Linked DNA regions of Homo sapiens. The protein of the gene in region 1 purifies or fractionates together with the protein of each later gene. This does not show direct contact. Each region holds a gene or a part of one and is shown in the gene's direction. Other genes may lie near its edges.

Region 1 (3,500 bases):
TTCTGGGAGTTGACTCTGTGTGTCATGAGCAGCAGTCATTACTGAAGATCACGAGACTCAGAGAGTTCTGGGTTTACAGCCAAGCCCAACTGCTTCCACCCCAGTCAGCTGTGATACTGAAAATTGCCCTTGATGAGTTAGGAAGACTCTTGGGAGACATTTCTGAGCAGAGTTACTGCATTTTCTATATTCCCAGTGAAGATACATGGGCCACCAAAGGATTTTTCCTTCTTATTTATTTACATGGAAAAACTCTTGTAAAAATATGCAAATTAGTTACACTTTGTTGTACATTTAATGAATAATCTGCGTTGAAAAGTGTAAAGTCGGGCCAGGTGAGGTGGCTCACGCCTGTAATCCCAGCACTTTGGGAGGCCAAGGCGGGTGGATCACGAGGTCAGGAGATGGAGACCATCCTGGCTAACACGGTGAAACCCCGTCTCTACTAAAAATACAAAAAATGAGCCGGGCGTGGTGGTGGGCGCCTGTAGTCCCAGCTACTCAGGAGGCTGAGGCAGGAGAATGGCATGAACCCGGGAGGCGGAGTTTGCAGTAAGCCGAGATCGCGCCACTGCAGTCCAGCCTGGACGACAGAGTGAGACTCCGTCAAAAAAAAGAAAAGTGTAAAGTCATAGGTTGTGAGATGTATTCTGGAAAACCCTGGACAACTGACCATGAAGGCAGGGAGGAAAGCTTCCCTTCTGTGTACCTGTTAGAGCTGTGCAAGGGGCCCCCTACCAGGGCTGGTGTGTGTGGATGCCCAGCTACATTAAATGTGGCTCTCACACTCAGAGATGGGTCCAGACACACAGGTCCTTCTGGCACACAGATCTGGAGGTGACATGTGAACGTGCCAGGCCTCTCTCGGGCCCAGCTACCTGAGTCTGAATATCCAATTATGTGTTCCTTTCTAGGTGGGACTTCAGATCTTACCAGTTGACGGCAATCCACATAAGACATCTGCTATTGTTTGCCACCCGAACGGGGTGGCCGGCATGGCCGTTTCCTATGATGGCTGCTACGCCTTCACTGCGGGAGGGCACGATCGCTCGGTGGTGCAGTGGAAAATCACCTTAAGGTACACGATGGGGCGAGAAGGAAGGTATCAAGTGTAAACTCCTTTTCACTCAGCAACAGTGATAGACACTGAACCCTACTGCGTGCCAGGCACTGTGCTAGGATGTCACAGGGCCTGGCCTTCAGGTTGCTCCCCGGTGGCATTGCTCACATTACTCTGCAGACAGGAGTTGCTGTCCTGTCCCATGGACCAATGGTGTTTGCAGTTCAGGCGATGTGACAGCACCTTGGGCTCACCCCTGCTCCCTAAAATGCTTCTCCCTCTGCTCCACATATCCACACCTGCTAGAAAGATCTAGGCCGACCCTCCAAAGCATATACTACGGAAATAGTAAGAGGATCATTTCAAGTGGTATTTTCGGCTCCTCTTCTCACCCTCCCTGCCCTGAATGGAGAACCTCTGCCTGAGGCGAGGCTGGAGAATTCTAGAGTTGAACATTGGAGAGTATGTGGACTTTGAGGTGAAAGGGATAATATGAGTTTGAATATGGGCCCACCCTCTACTGGCTATGGGGCCTAGGGCAAGCTTCTTAACGTCCCTGATCTTTAGATTCCTTGCATGCAAAATGAGGGTGATAGCATGTGAAATGGGGGTGATAATAGGAACTTCTGTAGGATCCCTGTAAAGATCAGGTAGTTTAATAGGGGAAAAGCACCTAGTACAGAGCAAAGTACTCGGCAAGTGAATGATTTCCTTTCGTCTCTTCTTCCTGTAAGGGCATTTGCTTATGAGCTCAGAATCTTCCCTAATAAAGAGGGGACAAGCACCCACACTGTCCTCTCATCTACCCAAATCCGGCATGCTGCCGCAGGGCAGAGTCAACCATGTGGCAGCCGGTTCCTGTTCCTGACCACTTCTCCAAGCCCCTGCGCTGCCTGTGGCTCGGCTGGGCCTCTCTCGGTAGTGTGACGTTGAGGAGCAAAAACAGCTCAGAGGCACCTTCCTTCCTCGGAAAACAAACCTGATTCCTGGCTGCCAGCACAGTGTACCCCCTGCCATCTGCCAAATGCACATCTTTCTTTTTATGGCAGATATTGAAGCTTCTACTCTTAACCTGAATATGAGCAAAAATAGCCGGTTAAATCTGCTTTGGAACCACGGTGGTTTGAGATTGCACTTGCAGCTCTGACTTCCACCCCACCTTCACCTGAGAGAGCAGATCTTGGGAACTTGAGGATTTAGGAGCTGGAGGTGAACTCTCCTATTGAAAAGGGATCATGGCCTCAGAATGGCTGCCTGGTTCCTTGCTCCCTGGCTTGTTGCCTGGAACCATGGGGGCAAGCCACACCCTGTGGGGACAAGCAGAACCTTCCCTTCTATTTGTTGTTGTTGTTGAGACAGGGTCTGGCTCAGTCGCTCAGGCTGTAGTACAGAGGTGTGATCATGGCTCACTGCAGCCTCGAACTCCTGGGCTCAAACAATTCTCCTGCCTCAGCCTCCTGAGTAGCTGGGACCACAGGCATATGCCAATGTGCCTGGCTAACTTTAAAAAAATTTTTTTTGTCGATACAGAGTCACACCAAGCCTAGGCTGGTCTTGAACTCATGGGCTCAAGCCTTGGGCACCTAAAGTGTTGGGATTACAGATGTGAGCCACTGCACCCAGCTAGAACCTTCCTTCTGAAATGTTTGTCTTCTTCTCAGTCGTCGTGGGATCTGGAATGGTAGAAATTTAAGAAGAAGAAAAAAAGGCCTCTGCTTTCCAATAGCTTTCGCCTGGCCAGAGTCCAGGCTTCTGAGAATTTCAATTTAATCTGTGGTGGGGACAAAGGATCATTATAAACTAATTATCACTTCATTGCTGCTTCTGGTGACTTAATATGATCAGCACTTCACTAATGGAGAGAAATGTAAAAAACCTAAACAAGTAAACAAACAGAATTTCCTACTAGAGTTACTGATGATGAGTTGTAGGGGAGATAAAGATGATAAATCCCCTCACATTCGATCATTTCAGTCAGTGCACCCCTTGGCCCCAACTGCTACCATCACAGTCTATGGCGCTTCTGCCCCGGGAGAGCCCCTTCCATCCCCTCTCTCAGGGTTCATTCCGCACGCCCCTTCTTCTCCTGCTCCGTGCTAGCATGCACCCTTTCTCTTCTCCTTGTCTGGCATCTGTTTCCAAATCCTGCATTACTTTTTTGTGCTCATCCTCCCTGCCTCCTGTCATCCTGCTGCCCTGCTCAGCCAAGAGCAGAGAGACCCCGATTCGAATCCTAGCTAATCACTACCTGCTTGCTGGATGACGCCAGGCAAGTCCCTTCACTTCTCGGAGCCTCAGTTCCTCCAACTCTTAAATGGGACTGCTACCACCAAGTTCAGACCATTCCTCCTCCTCCTCATCCAGGGAGCGTTTACAGAGCACCTACTGTGTGCTTGCCACAGGGCTGAGCTTTAGCTCCTTTCCAGAAGTACTGTATGGA
Region 2 (3,137 bases), on another chromosome or scaffold:
AGCTGCAAATGGAGAATCATGTAAGGAAGGCAAGAGTATAGTCCTATTAAAGACTGCTGTAATCCAAGTGGCCACAGTGTATTCAATCAATATGTGTTATGGTAAGCGGTGGAGAACATAAAAGCTGACTCCTGTTCAACAGCATTTAAGTTGTTTTGCAACATCTGGTAATTATTAAAACTAGAGTGTGAGGGAGAGGAGTTGAGGATGATACTGAGGTTTCAGTCTTCAACAGTCTGGTTAATGGTAGTACTGTTCATGTGAATGAGAAAACATAAGGAAAAACAGATACATCTGATGATGTGTTTAGGTTGGTACATTTGGTGCTTGTGAAATATTCAAAAGTAAAATGCCCAATTAGCATAAGACTCTAGAGCTTAATAAAATATGGATATAATTGGGGATCTGGGCAGACATTAGTCAGACAATAGCTTACAATGTAAGATGTAATGGAAGCCAAGGGTAGAGAGTTTGTAGAGTAAGGATACATGAGAGCCCAAAACAGAATCTGGAGGAACGCTCGTGTTTGAGTGATTTACCCTAGAATCTAAGAAGGAACAGCCACAGAAATCAGGCTAATATCACTGGAAGAGAATGTCTCTAGAAGGAAGGTGTGATCCTCAGTGTCAATGCTACAGAGAGGCTAAGTAATAATCTAGAAAGTACTTAGTGGATTAAAGAGCTATGAAGTGATCTTGATGAGAGTAGTATCAGTGGAAGTAGGGGACGGGGCGGTGGGGGGCGGGGGAGGACAGTAAGGCAGAAACCAGATTGTGGAATGAGGATACTTTCACTTGAAAGGCTGCAGACAACTCTTTCAAGAAATCACTATGAGAGAGTGAGGTTGCGAAACCACTTGAGAGAGAGTGAGGTTGCTTGAGGGAGATATGTAGGCAAGAAGGTTGATTTTAAAAGGTGAGAGACACTTAAGCTTATTTAAAAGCTGATGAACAGGAATCAGTTGAGAAAGAGATTGTAAATAGTAGAAAAAAATTGTAGGTAATTTATCAGTTGATGTCTCAAAAGAGGCAGGAAAGGATGGAATTCGAAGTGTAGATGTAGACTTTATTATTAGATAAGAGAGACCCTCTTTTGGCCAGTTGAAAAAAAAGATACTGGAGGACAGTGACATCTTTGTAGGTAGAAGCTTCTGTTTTCTCTCATGTAGAAAGTTTTGACGGTGACAAGAGAAATGTAATATCTGTTTTTTTGCTACTTATTGTTTCAGATTGTGAGAACAGTGAAACAGCAACAAAAGAGGGCATCTCAGAAGAAAAATCACAGGGACTCCCTCAGGAACCTTCATTTCGAGGAATTAGTGAGCATGAAAGCAATTTAGTGTGGAAGCAAGGAAGTGCTACAGGGGAGAAACTAAGATCTCCTTCCCAAGGGGGCAGTTTTAGTCAAGTGATCTTCACAAACAAATCTCTAGGAAAGAGAGACCTTTATGATGAGGCTGAAAGATGCTTGATTCTAACTACAGACTCTATAATGTGTCAGAAAGTTCCTCCAGAAGAGAGACCTTATAGATGTGATGTATGTGGGCACAGCTTCAAGCAGCATTCCTCTCTAACACAACATCAGAGAATCCATACTGGAGAAAAGCCCTATAAATGTAACCAGTGTGGGAAGGCCTTTAGTTTGAGGTCCTATCTTATTATTCATCAGAGAATTCATAGTGGTGAGAAAGCATATGAATGTAGTGAATGTGGGAAAGCTTTCAATCAGAGCTCAGCCCTCATTAGACATCGGAAAATCCATACTGGTGAGAAAGCTTGTAAATGTAATGAGTGTGGCAAAGCATTCAGTCAAAGTTCATATCTCATTATACATCAAAGAATTCACACTGGTGAGAAACCTTATGAGTGTAATGAATGTGGGAAAACCTTTAGCCAGAGCTCAAAACTCATTAGACATCAGCGAATTCACACAGGAGAGAGACCCTATGAATGTAATGAATGTGGAAAAGCTTTCAGGCAGAGCTCAGAGCTGATTACTCATCAGAGAATACATAGTGGAGAGAAACCCTATGAATGTAGTGAATGTGGAAAAGCTTTCAGTTTGAGCTCAAACCTTATCAGACATCAGAGAATTCATAGTGGGGAGGAACCTTATCAGTGTAATGAATGTGGCAAAACTTTCAAAAGGAGCTCAGCCCTTGTTCAGCATCAGAGAATTCATTCTGGGGATGAAGCTTATATATGTAATGAATGTGGGAAGGCTTTCAGGCACAGATCGGTCCTTATGCGCCATCAAAGAGTCCACACTATAAAGTAATTTGTGAATACTGTGAATAGTGTAAATACTTCAGTCAGATTTTTAAGTTTGTTAGTCAAAAGAGTTTACTTTGGAGCAAAACTCCATAAAGGTTATAAAATACTAGGTCTTGAGTCTAGCTTGCTTTGTGCAGCATTTCCCAGTGCTAATGTAAAGTGTCCCTTGAAAGCTTTTCCTGTGACTAATCAGAACAGAATACAGAAGAATCATTACTTCCAGCTCTTCTCTTATTAGGAATACTCAGGAAATACGAAAAGTGGGAATGTAACATTGAAACCTCATTTTGTATGAAAGTGTCATGAATATAGCAACCCAGGCTCTGTCACTGCATCTGATTGTTAGTGTGCCAGGTTATGGGGCTGGTGTGGACTGTGTGAGGCACTTCGTCTCAGGAACTAAAAAAAAAAAAAAAACTGACCCAATAAAGAACAGTGACAGAGCAGCAGGAAAGGTGGGGAAATGGCTTCATCAATGATTTGTTGAGCCCAGGGCAGGCCAGGAATTAGATAGGCATGAGAAGAAAGAATATAATTTACCCAAAGGTTATTTTTTGAGTACCTACTTTGTCCCAGGAACTAGGAATACAGTGGAAAACAAGACTGTAGTCTCTACAGTCTAATGGGCAAGGCAGCCAGACAGGCAGTGAAAGTGGAATGCTCCTATGTGACCTTAAGGAGCACCTGACTCAGCCTTGGATAAGGAAATGGGGGAAATGGCCTGAAGGATGAGGAGGAGTTAGCCAAGGTGGTACTCTAGGGAAGTGGTACCCCAGTAAAGAACAGTAGCCAAAGGCCAGAAACAAAGTGTGGAGCATTCCTTGAGTTCCTGTTGTAGTGAGGTCTTGTCTGTCAGAGAAGTCT

Evidence for each region. The genes of interacting proteins can lie anywhere in the genome.
Region 2: the proteins of CFAP251 (region 1) and ZNF397 purify together in Homo sapiens (co-immunoprecipitation; one large-scale study listed by IntAct). This does not show direct contact.

Annotation. Positions count from the first base shown.
Region 1 is NC_000012.12:121,967,092-121,970,591, forward strand, and holds part of CFAP251 (cilia- and flagella-associated protein 251), read left to right. Parts: intron 1-914; coding exon 915-1,078; intron 1,079-3,500.
Region 2 is NC_000018.10:35,244,034-35,247,170, forward strand, and holds part of ZNF397 (zinc finger protein 397), read left to right. Parts: intron 1-1,228; coding exon 1,229-2,277; 3' UTR 2,278-3,137. UniProt on the Homo sapiens protein: Isoform 3 acts as a DNA-dependent transcriptional repressor.